Homo sapiens: one gene and its partners. The protein of the gene in region 2 interacts with the protein of the main gene of each other region in a pairwise test. Each region holds a gene or a part of one and is shown on either strand. Other genes may lie near its edges.

Evidence for each region.
Region 1: the proteins of DYRK1A (region 2) and IGF2BP1 interact in binary tests that used the Homo sapiens proteins (3 or more experiments, as listed by UniProt).
Region 3: the proteins of DYRK1A (region 2) and USP54 interact in binary tests that used the Homo sapiens proteins (3 or more experiments, as listed by UniProt).

What each region holds. Positions count from the first base shown.
Region 1 is NC_000017.11:49,035,385-49,042,384, reverse strand, and holds part of IGF2BP1 (insulin-like growth factor 2 mRNA-binding protein 1), read right to left. Parts: intron 4,218-7,000; coding exon 3,936-4,217; intron 2,429-3,935; coding exon 2,294-2,428; intron 1,008-2,293; coding exon 885-1,007; intron 144-884; coding exon 8-143; intron 1-7. UniProt on the Homo sapiens protein: RNA-binding factor that recruits target transcripts to cytoplasmic protein-RNA complexes (mRNPs). This transcript 'caging' into mRNPs allows mRNA transport and transient storage.
Region 2 is NC_000021.9:37,509,721-37,516,833, forward strand, and holds part of DYRK1A (dual specificity tyrosine-phosphorylation-regulated kinase 1A), read left to right. Parts: intron 1-2,190; coding exon 2,191-2,811; 3' UTR 2,812-7,113. UniProt on the Homo sapiens protein: Dual-specificity kinase which possesses both serine/threonine and tyrosine kinase activities. Exhibits a substrate preference for proline at position P+1 and arginine at position P-3.
Region 3 is NC_000010.11:73,525,343-73,532,342, forward strand, and holds part of USP54 (ubiquitin carboxyl-terminal hydrolase 54), read right to left. Parts: intron 5,494-7,000; coding exon 5,362-5,493; intron 5,182-5,361; coding exon 4,801-5,181; intron 4,570-4,800; coding exon 4,338-4,569; coding exon of another isoform or gene 4,163-4,337; exon of another isoform or gene 3,847-4,162; intron 1,439-3,846; coding exon 1,305-1,438; intron 1-1,304.

The sequences.
Region 1 (7,000 bases), on a different chromosome or scaffold from region 2:
CACTCACGCTCATGGCAGCCACATCATTCTCATAGGCCTCCCGAACTTTCTTCATTATTTCCTGCTCGGCCCTGCAACAATTCTCGATGGCCCCCTTCACAGTGATGGTCCTCTCAGGGTTGTAAAGGGTAAGGTCTTGCAACCTGGCAGAAAGAGCAGAGTTGTGTCCTTTCACTGGCAGGCCAGGACCAGGCCCCGGCAGTAACAAAGACGAGAGGCCAGCTGAGTCACAGGCCCACCATTTCTGCAGCCTATTCAACTTCTGGCAAATAACTCTGCAACCCCAGTCTTTGGTGTTCCCAGTTTGTAACCAGGGCAGGGGGTAAGATGGAGGGAGATGCCAACACCTAACTCAAACTCCTCTGTTAGCAATGGATCCAATCTCAGATTATGGTTGTGCCTCCAAGTTTCCCCATTGATTCTACATAATCCATGTCCTATACCTTTTTGGACAAGAGCAATTACTTTGCCCACAGGTTAGTCTCTGATGAAACGAAGCACACTGCTTGCAGGAGCAGCCCACCACAGACAGAAAAGGGCCAAGGTCACTTCTCACAGTGACAGACAAGCCTAAAGCCCTGAATCCCTGGCTCCTAGCTGCAGGCTGTCCACGAGCCACAGGGAAAGAGGGCTGTGAAGTGGTTGGACGTGGACTGTAGAGGCAGCACCTTACAACACCCCTGCCCCATATGGCAGTGGGAATGGGCAGATCCAGTCCTTACAGGGATTTTTTAAATGCTCTTTACCACTTCGACTGTTTTTCTTCAAGAGGCAGAAGGAGCACCCATTTTAAAAGAGCACATATCAAGGTTCCATGATGAAATACTGACCCTGGCCCCCATGCATCCCCCACTCATAAACAGGGAAATAGAAGAGAGCCTTACGAGGAGATGGTGATTTTTGTCTCGGTATCTTGCTCTACCTTCTTCAGGTTCCGTCCTTCCTTGCCAATGAGACGCCCTACAAAGTTATTATGGGCCAGGATCTTCAGGGGAACCTCGTCAGCCCTTGGGAAGACAAAGGAAGAAGTGGAAGACAAGAGTTCCTTCAATTGTGGGCTTCATGAAGACTCAATCACCATGCCACCCCAGACTTGGCATTTCCAAGTAAAACATCTCAAAACTTATCAAACTGCATACTTTAAAAATATGTATGATTTATTATACATCAATTGAACATCAATAAAGCCAATTTGTTTTATTTTTTGAGACAGGGTCTCACTCTATCACCCAGGCTGGAATGCAGTGGCACTATCAAGGCTCACCACAGCCTTGACCTCCTGGGCTCATGCGATCCTCCCTTCTCAGCCTTCCGAGTAGCTGGGACTATACGCACAGGCCGCCACGTCCAGCTGATTTTTCTATTTTCTGTAGAGGTGAGGTTTCACTATGTTGCCCAGGCTGGTCTAGAACTCCTAGCCTCCAAAGTGCTGGGATTAGAGGCATGAGCCACCGTGCCCAGCCAATAAAGCTATTTTAAACAGCACAAGTGTGTAAAGGAACATGTGTAAGCAGATTCCTTGCATCACTGTTTTCTGATAAGGAAAAGTTTAAAACAATTTAAACACCCATCAAGAAATAGGAGATTGATTACATGAACTATGAATAGCTATACTGTGGAATTCTATGCAGCTATAAAAATAATGCGGTCTGTCCATATGTACTAATATATGTGCTGATACAGAAAATGAAAAAAGTATAGAACAGCCTGTTCAGTGTGATTCTCTCTGAGCTAAAACACATGTGCATACACGCACAAGTGAATACACACAGGCACACATATCCGTACATGCAGGCACGCAGACACAATATACACACACCTGTGAGTGCACAGAATTTCTAGGAGGTCATACGACAGGAATAAGAAGGGATGGGGTGTGGTGGCACACGCCTGTAATCCCAGCTCTTTGGGAGGCTGAGCTGGGTGGGTCACTTGAGTCCAGGAGTTCAAGACCAGCCTGGGTAACATGGCGACACCCCATCTCTACAAAAATCACAAAAAACTAGGCAGGCGTGGTGGTGCATGCATGTTGTCCTAGCTACTCAGAAGGCTGAGGCGGGAGGATCCCTTGAGATCCAGAGGCAGAGGTTGCAGTGAGCTGAGATCATGCCACTGTACTCCAGCCTAGGTGACAAAGTCCTGTAAGAAGAAAGATTTTATTTCTCAGTTTACATCTTTTTGTGCAATTGCTGACTGTATTTCTTATATGTCTGTATAAAAGCTTGAAAGTTGAGTTGGGGAGGCTCAACTGGACTAGCAGACCCTGAAGATCCAAGAAAAGCTGGAGACTTACGTTTTGGTGTCCTTAGCCTCTTTATGCATAATCTCCAAGATCATCTTACAAGCGGAGGAGCAGCCCTCAGGGGTGGAGTGCACACTGATGGCTTTTTCAGCTGCACCTGCGTTCTCCTTCCTATGCACGTCTATCCTGGGGGCCACAAGGACAAGGCTGGTTAGTTGTCCCCAGTGATACCAGTACTTCAGGCTCCCCACCCCACTACCCCTCCTCAGTCAAAGGCATAGAACCTGCTCTTCTTGAAACAAGGACAATCAAGTACAACTTTGGGAAGGGCAATGAAAGGACTGGAGAAATATGACCCGTCTGTTACTGTGGATTCTGTCTCAGACCAGCAGTGTCTCAATCCACAGGTGGTTGGTGGCCAGGCACGGGAGCTCACGCCTGTAATTCCAGCACTTTTGGAGGCCGAGGCGGGTGGGTTACTTGAGGCCAGGAGTTTGAGACCAGCCTGGCCAGCATGGTGAAACCCCGCCTCTACTAAAAATACAAAAAATTTAGCTGGGTGTGGTGGTGCACACCTGTAATCCCAGCTACTAAGGAGGCTGAGGCACAAGAATTGCTTGAACCTGGGAGGAGGCTGCAGTGAGCTGAGATCACACCACTACACTCCAGCCTGGGTGACGCAGTGAGACTCTGCCTCAAAAAATAAAATAAAAATAAATAAATAAGCAAGCAGTGGTTGGGGACAAGAACACAGCCTATGACACAAATGCAGGGGTGGGAATTACCAGCCCACAGCTCCAAAGCTGCATTTCCGCTTGAATTCCGTATGTCCCCCTTGAAACAAATATAAAGAGAAGACACAGTGCCCCAAACTCAAAGTAAATAACAAGATTTACTATGATAAGGACATAATATGACCTGTTCTTTGCCACTGAGTACACTGATCAGATATAAAGATTAGAGAAAAGGCCGGGTGTGGTAGCTCACGCCTTTAATCCCAGCACTTTGGGAGGCTGAGGCGGCCGGATCACGAGGTCAGGAGTTCGTAACCAGCCTGATCAACATGGTGAAACCCTGTCTCTACTAAAAATACAAAAATTAGCTGGGCATGGTGGCACGCGCCTGTAATCCCAGCTACTCGGGAGGCTGAGGCAGGAGAATTGCTTGAACCCGGGAGGCAGAGGTTGCAGTGAGCTGAGATCGCACCACTGCACTCCAGCCTGGGCAACAGAGCAAAACTCTGTCTCAAAAAAAAAAAAAAAAAAATATTAAAGAAAGAAGGTGGCAGTGGCAGAATGGGAGATGGGACACAATTATGAAGGTCCTAATTTTGGACAGGTTGGCCAGCCCTGTTACCACACTAAGTGATCATGAAATCACAGAGCACTGAGTTGCTGACTCATCAAAATGAGGTTTGCTTGGAGACTTTTTTTATGAAACTTCACATGAGAAATTATAGAATCTCTCTTGCTAATACGAGTGTGTGGCCTAGCACCCCAGACCCATTCTCCCTCCCTATCTGCCCTCCCTTTCCCAGGAGGCTGGTATTGGAAGCAGGGACCCCTGAATGCTCCAGGCAACATTTCCTAAAAGGTAAATGTTGATGTCTCCAGCATGCTTCCAGGAGGCCTCTTTAGGTACCAACCACTGTTCCCTAGCACCCAACCTCCATTCCCCAAGAGCCAAGACTCACTTGGACTGGGTCTGTTTTGTGATGTTGCGGATGGTGGCCCCCTCCTTGCCAATAATGGCACCCACATACTGGGTGGGCACCAGGAGCCGAAGGGGGATGTCCACTTGCTGCTGCTTGGCTGGGGCCCCCGCTGCCACAGGTGAGCCCTGGCGGGGCTGACCCCGAGAGCCAAAGCCCCCTCGGCGCCCATTCTCAGGTCCCTGTGCTATCTGCTCATCGGGGATGTAGGAGACCTTCAGGGCATGGTTCTCCAACTGGTGGCCATTCAGCTTCATGATGGCTCTGGGGACAGAGTGAGAGTCTACAGGTCATTCCAATCCATGCCAATCATACCAGATGCTCTCTTGGCCAAAGCACTCTAGTAAGTTACAGCTTGGAACACACTAAAGAAAAGGAGATAGTCACCTGCCCACTACCTCCACCTCCATTTTTCACAACTTTCCAGTCTAAATGGCATCAAAGACTTCAAAGGAAAAGTAAATAAATACAGTGTTCCCTAACACTTAGTTGGGATTTATTGTTCACAAAGGCTTTCCACTGGAACCATCAGAGAAATGGGCTTCCAGTCCAATAGAAAGTATAGGGTTCTGCTAGCCTAAAAAGGAAGAGCAAGCCATAGATCTCAAAGTACTCCCATGCCAACTGGAAAGCCTACCACAGACCTGAAGAGGCTCCACAAAGCTAACACATACACTTCCCGGATTGAGGAATCCCTACTACAGGGTGAGGAAACCAACTGCTAACTACTACATACTCCTAACTTTAGAGATGATGAAACCAAGGTCAAAGGAGATTGAAATGTATACATGTAGAATTCAAATGTTAATCCTGCCCTAATGAAGTGTGGGGTTTATTTTCGTTTTTGAAATAAAAGATCTTTATTTCAGATAAAAATTAATATTTCCATAATTAGGATAAAGCAAACACACATTCTTGAGTCCATTATTTAAGGAAATTTATACTATAAATGACTTCCATGAATATTAGAGTTCCTGAATATCATTTGAATATTTGCCTACAGGCTTATGGGAAGTTTCTGTAGCCTTCTCTTTGTAGAAATTCCAGTTTTTCTGAATTCTTCCTTCCTTCAGGTATTCCATTTTGCATTCTTCATAAAAGGCTGGATCATTATAGTGAGCAGTTAGACGTCCTTTCAATAGAGAATTTTCTTTCCAGCATTTTCCTACCGTAAGGGTTCCAGAGTTCTTGCAACATTTGGTAAAATCTTGAAGTTGTTCAGAACACCTCTCTCTGGCCTTTTCTCTCATTATTTTAGGGATCCAAACATCTTTTTCAACATGTCTGAGATGCTGCTTCAAAACTTGCAGCGTCTTCCCATTGTTTTTTATATAAAATTCAAACTCCTTGAAATGCTTGAAATGGTTTACATGACATTTCATAATTCACAACTGAAACCCCTCCATAGCCATGGCACACACTCCTCTTTGATCTCAATTCTTTCTTGTGGCCTTTGCTTAAGCCACTGTTTTTTGTTTTGTTTTGTTTTTTTCTTGAGACAGAGTTTTGCTCATTGCCCAGGCTGCAGTGCAATGGCGTGATCTCGGCTCAGTGCAACCTCCGCCTCCCGGGTTCAAGCCTCAGCCTCCCGAGTAGCTGGGATTACAGGCATGCGCCACCATGCCCCGCTAATTTTGTATTTTTAGTAGAGATGGGGTTTCTCCATGTTGGTCAGGCTGGTCTCCAACTCCCGACCTCAGGTGATTCGCCCGCCTCGGTCTCCCAAAATGCTGGGATTACAGGTGTGAGCCATCGCGCCCAGCCCAAGGCACTGTTTTTCAAATTTCAGGGCAACCCATCAGAGAGTTGTTAAATTAATCTGCCAGGTTGAACGCCATCGTGGCGGGTGTTGAAGCAGCAATTGAGGAATTCTTCTAATGAGCTGCTGGTGCACAAAAAAAAACAAACATGCAGTCTCGAAATTTTAGCTCCTCCGCAGTCCCCCATTTTTTTTTATTATTTTTTATTTTTTTATTTTTTTGATGGAACGCTTCACAAATTTGCGTGCCATCTTCGCGCAGGGGCCATGCTAATCTCTGTACCGTTCCAATTTTAGTATATGTGCTGCCGAAGCGAACACCTCCGCTGTCTTTTGTGCTACCTCTCCTTCCAGAGTCTCCAGAGACCCCTAACTGCCCACTTGGCTCTGGGGCCACAATCTCGCAACGCTCCCCAACCCAATGGGGTCCGCCAGCACGGGGCTGTAATACCACACACCACCAGCAGATGCCGCAGCCCCAACACTTCACAAAGCTAACTTTCAAAATTACAGCCATTTTACTACCTGCTATATACTTGCCAAGCGCTATGCCGGTCGCTTCCAGTCAACCCCGGTCGCTTCCAGTCAACCCCGCACCAGTTGGCCCAGCTGGGAAATGCGGTCACCGTGAGGATTAAGTTAGTAAAATGGTACACAGTGCCTTAAACAGTGACCGGCTGGCCGTGTCAAATTACCAGGCCGAGACCAGCCTGGAGCCGCGGCCTCCACTCCCGCCTAGTGCAGTCCCGGGCCCTCCCACAAGGAGGTCCGGCCCCCGGGGTTGCCTTCCAGCCAGTTGGGGCTTTTGCCCATTTTCCTATCGCCTGCCACCAAGCTGCTGCTACGTATCCCGGCTGGAATCTGACTACCCCTCCAGCAAAGTGGTGGGGGGCGGGCCCGGGTCAGGGAGGCCACATCACCAGCTTCCTGCAGGAACTTCTAGAAGGCGAGCAGCCCGGAAAATGGCATGGGCGGCCGCCCAGGGGAGACCTCGGAGGGCAAGGCATCCCCGTTCCCAGGTGCCCCAGCCACCCCCACCGCTGCAGGTGCACGCCCGCAGGGAGGCGCCATGTGGTGGGGCCCCACATGTGTGTGGGGAGACTGCGAGGTCCCAGCCTACCCACCGCAGGCCACTGCCCCAGACCGCTGCCACCTCCCAGCGCACCTCGCATCCGCATCTGCCCAGGCTCCCAGGGCAAAGATAACTGAATTAGGACACCAGTATTCCAATCTTAGTTCTATTGCTCACTAGCTATATGAAGCAGGAAACTTACAACCTAGTCTAGAC
Region 2 (7,113 bases):
ACCGGTCCCCTATTTATTAATGGACATTTAGTTCATTTCCAACCTTTTTTACTATTTACAAATGGTAGTTTAATAAATAACCCTGTACGGTAGTGTCCCTTCTTATCCACAGTTCCAGTTATTCAGTCAGTCACGGTCCAAAAATATAAAGTGGAAAATTTCAGAAGCAATTCGTAAGTTTTAAATTCTGTTATGAGTAGCACGATGAAATCTCATGCTGTCCCACCCTGGGCATGACTCATCCCTTCGTCTAGCATGTCCACACAGTAGATAAGTTACTTTGCTTTGTAGCCATCTAGATTATCAGATCAAAAAACATAGTATATAGAGGGTTTAGTCCTCTGCAGTTTCAGGCATCCAGTGGGGATCTTGGACTGTATCTCTTGTGGATAAGGAGGCACCACTGTACATGTCTCATTCACACATAGACATTTTATCTGTGATATAAATTCCTGAAAGCAGAATGACTGTTTCAAAGGGTAATGTGATTTATAATTTTGATAACTATTGCCAGATTGCCCCCCATGTGATTTTCTAATCCAGTAACTTGATTAACTTCATATAAAAACCATATAGTATTTTCTGAGAACTCACTGCCAGCTTTTCTACTGATTGTTTTCAGTAGTATCTCTTAAAAGTTTGGTTCTCAGACCACCTTTGTTGAATAAACCCTTAACAATTTGTGCCAGCCACTGGATAGAGACTGAGCCTTTTGCCTTCCTAGAGCTTACAGTGACACAAGTAAATAAAATGAACATGAAGAAAAATGGCAAGTAGCATTAGCTGTTAAAAAGAAAATAAGGATAATTTGGTAGAGAAAGACTGTTTGTTGGATAGGATGTATTAATTAGAATAGGCCAAACTCTGATATAACAGACCCCCAAAATATGGTAGCTTAAAGAGTACCAAGTTTCCTTCATTTTTGTGCAACAGTCCAGAATAGGTGTTCAGGTTAGTGGCTAGGCCGTCTTCCAGGTCCTGATCTCCTACCATCTTGTGGTTCCACCTTGCCCTAGGGCCTACTTGTCTACTGTGTCCAGCAGGCAGAAGGACTTGGGAGGTATTATCTTGTGTGCCAGGCTAGCAGTGACACAAGCTTTCATTCACATTCCATTGACAGCTTAGACATATGGCCATCAGTAAGTACAAGGGAGGCTGGGAAGTGTTGTGTAGCCATGTGCTCAGGAACGAGAAGAATATTGTGCACAACCAGTAGCTTCTGCCACAGTTGTTGAGGCAGCATCAGCCAGAGTGGTCAGGGAAGGCTCTGGAACTGAAGCGATGAAAAAGAGACATCCAAGCAATAAGAAAATCCAAGAAATAACATTTCTAGGCAGAAGGGAGCAGCGTGTTACTAGTACACTGAGGCATTTGAGAGATTTTGACCCAGGGGAGGAATGGAAGGCAGGTCTTCTTTGTTTGGAACTCAGGTAGCCAGGGATAGGATGGGTGGAGAAAGAGGTTAGAGAAGTGGGCATTGGCCAGATGATGCAGATCGTTGTATCCATTTGGGTTTATTTTGTTTTTCTAAGTGCAGTGAGAAGTCATTAAAGGATTTTAAATAGGGAAGTGATTGGATTTGTGTTAAGAAAAGATTGTTCCTGCTACCCTTTGGAGAAGGGCAAGGATGGAAACAAGGAGTTCATTTAAGGGGCTGTTGTGTTAGCGTAGGCAAGAGATGATGGGGATGAAGAGAAGAGGCCAAATTTGGAATCTGTTTCACAGGTAGACTCATAAGTTCTTGCTCATGGGTTGGACAGAGGCATTGTTGAGCAGCTAGGTAGATAGTAGTCCTTTATTGAAAGAAGAAAGATGGAGAGAGGAAGGACATGAGGGAAAAGTAAAGACTTCCTTTTGGACCTGCCCAGAATACTGTCCAGCCCTTTTCAGGAAATATTTGCTGACCCCTGGCATAAACAGGGCTCCCAAGGAAGGACAGTGGCTAGTGAAATAGATGAACCTATTTAAGGATATAACTTCCTAAAAATTGCAGCTTTCATGATGAAATTTTTTGCCCTTGAATGTATTTGGGATTTTGTGTTATAAAACTGTCTTAACACATTAAAAGTTTCAAAAACCGTTTCCCCCTGATTAATATGATGCTAGTTTGTTAGTGTCATGGCTTTTGATGGAAGATTAAAGCTTGGAAACAGTCCTCTGAAAAATCCTTTTAAAAATCTGTTCTTTCAGGTGCGTCAGCAATTTCCTGCTCCTCTTGGTTGGTCAGGCACTGAAGCTCCTACACAGGTCACTGTTGAAACTCATCCTGTTCAAGAAACAACCTTTCATGTAGCCCCTCAACAGAATGCATTGCATCATCACCATGGTAACAGTTCCCATCACCATCACCACCACCACCACCATCACCACCACCATGGACAACAAGCCTTGGGTAACCGGACCAGGCCAAGGGTCTACAATTCTCCAACGAATAGCTCCTCTACCCAAGATTCTATGGAGGTTGGCCACAGTCACCACTCCATGACATCCCTGTCTTCCTCAACGACTTCTTCCTCGACATCTTCCTCCTCTACTGGTAACCAAGGCAATCAGGCCTACCAGAATCGCCCAGTGGCTGCTAATACCTTGGACTTTGGACAGAATGGAGCTATGGACGTTAATTTGACCGTCTACTCCAATCCCCGCCAAGAGACTGGCATAGCTGGACATCCAACATACCAATTTTCTGCTAATACAGGTCCTGCACATTACATGACTGAAGGACATCTGACAATGAGGCAAGGGGCTGATAGAGAAGAGTCCCCCATGACAGGAGTTTGTGTGCAACAGAGTCCTGTAGCTAGCTCGTGACTACATTGAAACTTGAGTTTGTTTCTTGTGTGTTTTTATAGAAGTGGTGTTTTTTTTCCAAAAACAAAGTGCAAAGCTGCTTGAATCAGGAGGAGATTAACACACTGAACCGCTACAAGAGGGCAAAGCTGATTTTTTTTTTAACTTGAAAAGATTGCAAAGGGACATTGAAGTGTTTAAAAGAGCCATGTCCAAACCCATCTTCATGGATAGCTCAGAGGTATCCTCTTTTTGCTCCCCCATTTTAACTTGCCACATCCCAGTCACAGTGGGGTTTTTTTGTCTTTCTATTCAGCAAAAGTTAATATTCAGATGTTGGTCTTGGTCATTTGCCAACTAATTTTAAAGTAAAAGGCACTGCACATAATTTGCATAAAGGGCCCCATGAGGGTGTTTTTTTTTTTTCTTTTTGTCCCCCCCATCCCCCTTTTTTTTTGTTTTGTTCTGTTTTGTTTTGGGTGGGAGGGTGGGAAATTTGGGTTTTTAAGTCCTCTAAACACACTTGGGCACGGAAATGCAGTACTGTAAGGAAGAGGGACCTCCAGCTTCCACAAACACCATCTTCAGCTGTATGAAAGGGACGGTTGTGGTGAAGTTTGTCAGGCACAGTAAGCATGCTGAGTGGCGGGGATCAGAACTCTCCTATCTGAACCTACTGAGGAGCAAAGCAGCAATTACATGGGATCCTGTGGCTCTCCCGTTGCAGAGGCCACAGGAAGATAGGATGGAACGTGACTGGTCTCCTAACCAAGGTGCACTGAGAAGCAATCAACGGGTCGGTCGTGGCCAGTCCTGGGGAGGTCTGAGTGGTGGTCTTTGGGATAACCTTTGGCCTTATGGATTTGGACTCGAAATTAGAAGAGCCTACCATTTCAGATGCAATCACTTTTGGACATGCTTTTGCAGACAGTCCTTAATGCTGAAAACACAGAGAATGGGTAATTCAAGAGGCCTTTCTTTTAAAATAGACTTTTGTGACCCACTAATTGTAAGGTATTGCAAGGTCACTTTGCGTGTGTCATAAAGTTGACTTCCTTATTGGTTGAAGGTCACAGAAGTAGTGGTTTGCTTTGATGGAAATAGCTACAGCTGTGTCCCTTCCTGCTTTTTACTTTTTCTTTTGCTTTTTCTCGGCACGTGGTATCTCCACCATTTCTTCTGCACAAAGATGTCTTCTGTTCATCCTGAACATTTTTAAAAAATGCAGAATTTTATGTGACTGCTTTTTTGCCTCACAATTATGCTGTGAATTTTACAAAAATTTATTTTCTTTTTTGATAATTTATTGTACCAAAGCTGTTTTTATAGCACATAGATGTCTGTAACCAATAATGTAGCAGTTCTGCACTTTGACACAAGGTGTAACTAGACCATTTTTAAATGTCAGTTGAAAATTATGGCTGTACTATTGCTTAAACAAAACTGGAACTGTTGTTGAATCCATAGCCAATACATTTACAGCAATCTGTGTACTGAACATAGTAGATTGACATCTAATTCAAGATTACAACATCTGTTACATTCTAAGTGTGTTCAGGCTTCTGAAGGTAAAGGGACACTGGATCCAGAAGCTATGGAACCAGCAGTTGATTCTTGTATTCCTGATTAACCTACTTGTAAACTTGAAAGCAAGACCTTGATTGCACCAACAGGTCCAGAGTATGAGTGCAAGCAAAGCAGAACTCTCATGCGTGACCTGAGCAGACAGGCTGGTATTTAACAGGTGCCTCGTGTTGAGATTACGCTGCCTTAATGTAACACAGTCTGGCAGTTGCTAAATTTGTGTTCCCATTTTAAATTGACCAATTTTGGGGTGTGACACTTTTGAGCGGTTGAATTGGGAGAATGAAGATAAGTAATTTACCTGTCCAGGATCAAAAGAAGCCTAGAAAAGAAGCAGTAATCTACCTCTGCCGATAACCTGTTTAAGATGACTCAGCAGAACACCGCGTTTCATTCTATTGGTCAATTCCATGTGGCTGACTAGGTCAATTTTTTTTCTGAACAAAAGCAGGTTTTTATATGTAAACAGTGAGAAAAGAAAGGCTAAACACTATGTAAATGTGAATGGAAACTTGGAAATACTCGTTTTTATAAACTACAAAAACTTTTTGTTGTTTATCAGGAAATCCATATTTATTTTGTAATTAACTGTCAAGCCTGTGGATGATTTTTTTGAACTTGGTAGTTCATAAAGGTTTACAGTGAATAAAAGGATATCATCTTGAGTATAGCAATATCAAAAGGAATTCAGTAGTTACTGCTGTTTAGGAATATAAGGTTAAGATATCATATGGGTCAGGTCATTTTTTTTTTCTGTGCTGGTTGCCACATCTTAGCAAGCACCAAAAAACTAAAGCAGTTTTTAAACCGATATTTACGTAAAGAAAATCATAAAATCCAATGCTTCTGCATACTGTGTTATGTTACAGTCCAGTTTTGTGTGCTTTACTACACAGTTTGGTTACAGGACTTCTGTGCATTGTAAACATAAACAGCATGGAAAAGGTTAAATACCTGTGTTCAGATTGTAAGATCTAGTCCGGACTTGCTGTGTATATTGTAACGTTAAATGAAAAAAGAACCCCCCTTTGTATTATAGTCATGCGGTCTTATGTATGATAAACAGTTGAATAATTTGTCCTCAGACTCTTTACTATGCTTTTTTAAAAATTAATTTAAGAAAAATGTAAACATAGTAAAAATCTTCCTATGCAATTAAACTGGTCCAGGTCTGGTAGGTATAGTATCAAAGTTGAGTTAAATGTGTAAAAAGGAAACTATTTGAGATACATTGACATAGGCATCAGCAATCTCTGAAAGTAAAAATTGGAGGTTTAACAGATCATTTTGATTTTTCACATTGATTTTTTTATTTGAATGTTTACATAATTTTGTGATTCAAAATGCTCATATTTTAGTTGGTAGCATTTCGACTGGATGTGAGGGTCTGATGGTTTTCTCTGATATGCTTTGACGTGCTTGGATGAAGGAAGGAATACGAATACTCATTCTTCCTTCCCTAACTCCTCGTACGGGGCCATATCAGAATTCTAGAATTCTTGCCACTGTGATTCAATTGCTAACCTAAAGTCTTCTCTTTTTACAAATTCACCTGCTTCAGTATATATTAAGGTGGCTTTCGAGAGGCAAGATGCTTATTTAAAAGTTAAGCGTGAATCTGTAAAATTAAGGTTGGTTGCGTAAAGTTGAAGTTAACCACATGTAAGAAAGGAAAACTTCCATTAGTTTTCTTCTTAGGGTGTGAGAATTTTACCTAGGCACATGGATATTGGGCTGAAAAAAAAAAACCGACATTTTTATTTAAAACTACATGTAAAAAATCATGAAAGATTCAGTAATTATGTTAGGCTCACAAGTGACCATTGAGTTTGCCCCTGTACTGCTTCCCAGCTTTTGTGGTGTTGAACTTTTCTGTTCTTCCAATAGGGAGATACATAATCAAAATACACACGAAGACGAGATAGCAGGCACTCAGTTCTAGGCCAGTTTCTCAGTTTCCTTTGGGCCTGCCTTTATTTTGATAGTCGCAGAATGCAGGTTCAGATGCGATCCGGTGCATTCTGGGTGGTATCCCCATAGACAGAATACAAGTTCAAGACTCATTTTTATGTCCATTTTTATAGTGGTAGACTGTATGTAATAGACCAGATGGTTCATTCCAAATACATGACTTGGTCTTACTGCTATATATGAAGGAAGTTTGAAAATGTAATGGGGACAAAAGCCGTGCGTGACTTCGGTATACCCAGACTTCATTCAGATTTCTTAAAAATCTGCTAGGGATGTCTGTTGACCAGACGTTGGAAAACCTTTGGTGTCAGGGAGAGTAGAGGAGAAGTTCTGATTTTCATAACCCTGGTTTCTTATCTAGGCCTGTTTCCTTGCGTGAAAACATACATCACCAAGTAATTTGTAGTACAAAGAACAAGAGAAGAAACCCTAAGAAGATAGCTTATTTGTTATCCTCCCTTTTAATGACTAACCTTAATCCAAATGAATCCACTGAGAACCAGCCTGTGGATGCCTACTGGGCTTTCACCCTGGACCAGGAATTTTTGACGTATGCCTGTGTTGAAGGCACTGGATGCTTGTTTTGTGGAAGACATGTTCATTGAGGTAAGTGGCTCATCGCTTGGTGTGTTTGGCTCTCTTTGGCATTATGCATAGCCAAGGTCCCAGATTTTGGCTGCTCTCAGTGGGTGTTCTTGCATCAGAACTTTAAAAAAAATAACACTACCTTAACACTGAGACTGTCAGGTATTTGTCAGTATTTATTTC
Region 3 (7,000 bases), on a different chromosome or scaffold from region 2:
TTAGATCAAATTGTGGCGCATAAATAGGGCTTATTATACAAACAGGATGGTGGGGTGATATGGTGTGTGAAGAATCTTGTCATAACTCCTTGCTAATTATCTTTTACCAGTTGAAGAACGCTGTTGGTGAATTCTATCCAACTGGTCCAGAATTGAGGACTATTCAGGAGATCATGAGACTCAGTCATTAGTGTAATTAAAAAAATGCTGGCTATCTGAAGAGAAGGGAGAATAGTCTCATGCACGATTCACAAGTTTCTTGAAACAATGTTATTCAACATGAAATAAATTAAAATGTGGGGAATAAATCAAATGTATAATTACAATGGGAAGCCCAAATGTCTTCCACGTGTCTCTAACTATAACTTACTAGAGCCCAGGATTCCAGAGATATCTGCCTCTATAGGCATTGTTCTGCTCTGCCAGATGTCCACAACCTTTAGTATACATACCTAAAAGGGTTCATGCCTTTTTACTACTGCTGCTGCAGGCCTTTCTTCCTGCTACCTCTAAGAATTGTCAGTAACTATCAAGAGAATTGGTAGTAAGACTAAGATATTTAGCCAGGGGTAAGGATAAATTTGAATTGCTTATTTCCAAGTTTTGCAAATAGCCACATGTACCCCTTTGGTATGTCAATTCATAATACTAAACAATAAGAAATCCATTTCCCAAGAGGCTGTCCCTAATCCAAGGAAAGCCCTAGGATTTATTCTTCTGAAGAATGGGGATGTTAGTAACACTGTTCACCATATTTCTGTCCCTTCTTGCTCCCACAAGGGCTCCCTCCAGGTAGAAAGAAATATTCATGCAGGCTGTGATGGAGAACAAAAAATAGATAAATCCAAAGATGGAGCAACTGAAATGACTCTACATTTACATTCTGATGGAATACTCAAACTGTAACTGTCCTCTTTTTTTTTGAAATGGAGTCTCACTCTGTCGCCCAGGCTGGAGTGCAGTGGCACGATCTTGGCTCACTGCAACCTCCGCCTCCCAGGTTCAAGCAATTCTCCTGCCTCAGCCTCCCGAGCAGCTGGGACTACAGGTGCACGCCGCTACGCTGGTTAATTTTTTGTATTTTAGTAGAGACGGGGTTTCACCATGTTGCCCAGGCTGGTCACGAACTCCTGAGCTCAGGCAATCTGCCTGCCTCGGCCTCCCAAAGTGCTGGGATTACAGGTGTGAGCCACCGCGCCCGGCCTGTAACTGTCCTCTAATTTCAAATGTGCTCAGGTAAGTCTGGTCCCCAGACAAAACTGCCGGTCAAATCCAGTCCTCAAATTCAGTGTCATTCTGCTTACCAGAGAAAGGCTGACTCTTTGTCCAGCCACCCATGGATGCTGTGGAGTCTACCTCCAGGATGCTACTGCTGTGCGACTTTGGGATATGACGCCAGGAAGGAACCAACCCAGCTGATCTCTTAGCACTTGGATCCCTTCAAAAGAGAACTCAGAGTCTAGTGAAAGCATGAAAGCAGGTTATAGCAACATTCCTAGGACTAAATCTCTCTCTCAAAAAAAAAAAATCAAACTACACAATTAGAGCTTCTGCTAAACTACTTCTGAAGAATTGAAATATCCACTCATTCTCCTATCTAACCTCATCTCACCTCATTCACAACTTGTGCATCTAGCACAGTATCTGGTACATAATACATATTCAAAATCTGTTGAATGTACTAATGAACATATTGGTTTCATATTTATTTCCTTCTTTCTTACTAAACCTTTGTAGCATCTTCTCATAAGTAAAACTCAACAGGATCCTGTGGACAGGGAAGAACATTGACAGAGTATGAACATGTGGTTATCACCTTTGTAGAAGATATAATCATGCTTTTCAAAGCAGCTCTACTATTAGAAAAATTGCCTTGGCCAGGTACAGTGGCTCATGCCTGTAATCCCAGCACTTTGGGAGGCTGAGGCAGGCGGATCATGAGATCAAGAGATCAAGACCATCCTGGCCAACATGGTGAAACCCCATCTCTACTAAAATTACAAAAATTAGCTGGGTGTGGTGGTGGGCGCCTGTAGTGCCAGCTACTAGGGAGGCTGAGGCAGGAGAATCGCTTGAACCCAGGAGGCAGAGGTTGCAGTGAGCCGAGATCGTGCCATTGCACTCCAGCCTGGTGACAGAGCGAGACACTCCATCTCAAAAAAAAAAAAAAAAAAAAGAAAACAGAAAAATTGCCTCTGTGGCAACTCAGTAAAAATAATGTATGGAGATTTGAAAGTTATAAAGCAAACTGAGCCCTATGGGCAGGGTACAATGAGTGCTAATAAACTGTCATCATTATTATGAATATTATTAGCATTATAAAACACAAAGTCCCAGTGACCCTAAAACAAATCAAAATAAAAACTATCCCACCATACTGGGTGTGGTGACTCACACCTATAATCTCAGTACTCTGGGAGGCTGAGGTGGGTAAATCACTTGAGCCCAGGAGTTCAAGACAAGCCTGGGCAAAATGATGAAACCCCATCGATACCAAAAAAAAAAAAAAAAAAAAAGCAACGACAACAAAACACTGTCCCAAAATAACATTTGGGCTTCTTCTCTGATTTTAGTATTACATAAGTTTTAATTCACTAATCCATTCTTTTTGAGATGGAGTTTCGCTCTTGTCACCCAGGCTGGAGTGCAGTGACGTGATCTTGGCTCACTGCAAACTCCGCCTCCCGGGTTCAAGTGATTCTCCTGCCTCAGCCTCCAGAGTAGCTGGGACTAGAGGTGCGCGCCACCATGCCCAGCTAATTTTTGTGTTTTTAGTAGAGACGGGGTTTCACCATGTTGGCCAAGATGTTCTCGATCTCCTGACCTTGTGATCCACCCAGCTCGGCCTCCCAAAGTGCTAGGATTACAGGCATGAGCCACCGCGCCTGGCCCACTAATACATTCTTTTTTTGTTTGTTTGTTTTTTTGAGATGGAGTTTCACTCTGTTGCCCAGACTGGAGTGCAATGGCACGATCTTGGCTCACTGCAACGTCCACCTCCTGGGTTCAAGTAATTCTCCTGCCTCAGCCTCCCAAGTAGCTGGGATTACAGGCTCCCACCACCACGCCCGGCTAATTTTTGTTTTTGTATCTTTAGTAGAGACGGGGTTTCACCATGTTGGCCAGGCTGGTCACGAACTTCTGACGTCGTGATCCACCCGCCTCGGCCTCCCAAAGTGCTGGGATTACAAGCGTGAGCTACTGCGGCAGGCCTAGTCCGTTTTTGTTTCTTTTTTTTTTTTTTGAGATGGAGCCTTGCTCTGTCGCCTAGGCTGGAGTTGCCATGGCACGAGCTCGGCTCATTACCACCTCCACCTCCTGGATTCCAGCGATTCTCCTGCCTTAGCCTCCCAAGTAATTGGGATTACAGACGCCCACCACCATGCCTCACTAATTTTTGTGCTAGCCTGGGATTACAGGCGTGAGCCAACATGCCTGACCTAATCTGTTCTTTAATACATTTTTTTACTGTGTATATTTAAGGTATACAACATGATGTTATGAGATACATAGAGACAGTAAAATGGTTACTATAATTGAAGGAAATTAATATACCCATCATCTCATATAGTTACCCATTTTTTTTGTTTTTGTGGCAAGAGGAGTTAAAATCTACTCATTTACCATGAATCTCATATGCAGTACAATTTTATTAATTGTAGTCATGTTTTACATTAGATCCCTAGACTTGTTTATCCTACATATCTGAAAAATACAGAAATCTTCACAAATTTTTGTGCCACCTTTGAGCAGGAGCCATGCTAATCTTCTCTGTATTGTTCCAATTTTAGTATATGTGCTACCAAAGCAAGCACTAAACAATTATTTCATTATCCTTAGCAAACTAAGACAGGAACAGAAAACCAAATACAGCATATTGTCACTTATAAGTGGGAGCTACATGGTGAGGACACATGAACACACAGAGGGGAACAACAGACACAGGCCTATCGGAGGGTGGAGGGTGGGAGGAAAGAAAGGATCAGGAAAAATAATTAGTGAGTACTAGCTTAATATGTGGGTAACAAAATAATCTGTACAATGAACTCCTATGACACAAGTTTATCCTAACAAACCTGCACATATGCCCCCTGAACCTAATTTTTTAAAATTATTTTATACATGATAACTGTATTTCAAATAGAAAGTTCTCTCTCCTTTCTCAAGTGCCTCTGTTCTTCCAGCAGAGGGTGCTGTTGTTATAGGAAGTTGAAAGAGCACATAGAGATAATAGCAAAGGCCATCCCTCCACTTGTCTCAGCCATGCCTGAAAGCCCCAAGTAGGTGGCTCACATTGCTGCAAGAGACAATGTTGCTGTTCAAAGGCCAAACAATACCTGTAGACATTTGAGCTCTCAGGCAGGGCTGCATCCAGGCTGACAGGGCTGCTGCTGTTCCTCTCACTGCTTTCATAGCCAGATTCCATTCGCTGGATTAGTCGGGGGTGCTGCTCTAAAAGGTGAGAGCCTGGCCGTGCTGGGCCCCAGCGCTTGTACTGGGGGCTTGGTCCACCAAATTTAATGTCGTAAGAAGGTGGCTTGCTTGGTTCATCTGGTATAAATTCTTTAGCTATCCCAATCAAAAGACAGGTATGGAAAATGAGGTAGATTTAGCATTTGCCTAAAATCAAGACCTAACTAGCTCCTCCCTCTAGCTACTTATTCACTGAACTCATATCCCTAAAACACCCGACATCAGAGTAAAAGTGCCCCTTGCCAGATGTACCAAAAAACCCAGGTTTTAAAAAGACATAAATCAACTTTATTCAAAAGCCCAATTCTTCCCTAATTATCTCCTCACCTGAATCCTCAGAAAAGGGGCTAAGCTGGGTATAGCCACAGTGCTTCCTTTTGTCCTTACTAAAGATACTGTCAATATTCAGAGATTCTCGTTTGGGTCTCCATGTGGGACGATACTTGCTGGAAGAACTGGATTTTGACTCACTGCTGGTACTCTCTATTTCCCAGTCACGAGAGTGTAAAGGCAGGGTCCTAGGAGGTTTTTTGTCAGGCTGGTCTCCTCCTCTGCCCCTGCAGTGAGAGCCTACATTGGTCTGAGAAGCCAGGGATGGTCTGTTATGGATCATATTGCTGACTGTCTCTTTAAAATCTCTCAGCCTGTTGGTGCTGCTGGATGGTTTGGAGGCATTTCTAGGAGCCTGCTTCTCTTTCAGTGTTTCTCCTAAAAACACAAAGAATGAAAGAAATATAGATGTTTAAAGTGATCATGGATACTAGACCCCAATGTCGAAAAAGCAAAGAAAAGCCCTCTGAACAGAAAGGAGAAGCCAACAGTCTGGAGCATGACAGAAGTTTGATAGAGTGAATGAAGGAGAAAGAGAAGCAGTGCAGAAGGGCTTGCCTTCACTGTGGTATCCCGAGGCCTGGGGCTCATCGCCTTTCCTCCTAACCCGACCAGAGCTCCTCTTGCGCTCTATCAGTGACCCTTTCTTGGATGTGTGTTTCTGATTACATTCACTATCAGTCAGGTGTCCTGAAAAAACAAGGAAATTGGGGTAAGCTGGTATCTGAGACTAACCTCCACCCTCCTGAGAACCTACCTAATCTCCCTTTGGGAGTGCCACAAATTTAGAGTACCCATGGAACAGAAGCTGTAGGGCATAGGCTATCTGATTTCAGTGTAGGAACCTCCCAGTAGATAAATGCAGAGAAGGGCCAGGTGCAGTGACTCACACCTATAATTGCAGCACTTTGGGAGGCTAAGGCGGGCAGATCACTTGAGGCCAGGAGTTCGAGACCAGACTGACCAACATGGCAAAACCCTGTCTCTACTAAAAATACAAAAATTAGTCCGGCATGGTGGCATGTGCCTGTAGTCCCAGCTACTGAGAGGCTAAGGCATTAGAATCACTTGAACCCAGGAGGTTGCAGTGAGCCGAGATCACGCCACTGCACTCCAGCCTGGACGACAGAGCAAGACTGTCTCAAAAAAAAAAAAAAAAGATAAATGCAGAGAAGCTGGGAGCATCCAAATTTACAATGTCTCCTGAGCAATGACCAATCTCAATCCCACTCCTAATCTTCCCCAGTGACCCAGAAGGACTAATGACATGTTTCTAGGTAACTTTTTAAAGGCAAAAGTTTTAAAGATTATATAAAAATGTCAGGTAGCCATATACTTTCACTCTCATAAATTGAAGACAGAGTTTTCCTTTTATTTATTTAGCAACACATATCAAATAAAGTCTGATTTTCAGTACATCTGGTATTATCCTGGATACTCCAGACTTTGCCCACAAGAGGTCTGATTTTATATGGCTTTAAGACCCAGTTCCAAGCTTTCCTTAATTGTGGATCATTTAAAGGGCATTTCAACTTTGATTCTCATTCCTATCCCCAACCCATCTTCACGAAACTTGGCTCCATCCAGAGATTACACTTCATAGTTCCTTAATACTAATCACTGGGAAAACCAGGAGAGCTGGGCTCTTTTATGTAACTTGCCCTGCTTCATGCCCATAGTATGCAAATACATGAGCATGATTTGATGACAGCAAAAGTCAGATTCTAAAGGATATAAGCAACTAAATTGCTAGAAGCCAGAGATGAATTAAGCAGGTAAATTAAGTTTGAAGATATGCTTAGAAAAAAAAAACCTAGGTCAAATGCATGGAGAGCTAACAAAAATTTGTTTTCACATGATAGCATATGAGAATCCTTATGCATATTCAAGTATCACCAGTGTAGTGATATGGATACATATTTTCAATCAGTTGCCCCTTGGAATCTTGTATTGCTTTTATTTGGTCGTTTGCTACCTCTGTGCCCACAAGAAAGATTTAAGAGAGGAGGAAATAACTTGGAACAACTAAGTCTTTTTTTTTTTTTGAGACGGAGTCTCGCTCTGTCACCCAGGCTGGAGTGCAGTGGTGCGATCTCAACTCACTGCAAGCTCCGCCTTCCGGGTTCACGCCATTCTCCTGCCTCAGCCTCCTGAGTAGCTGGGACTACAGACGCCTGCCACCACACCCAGCTAACTT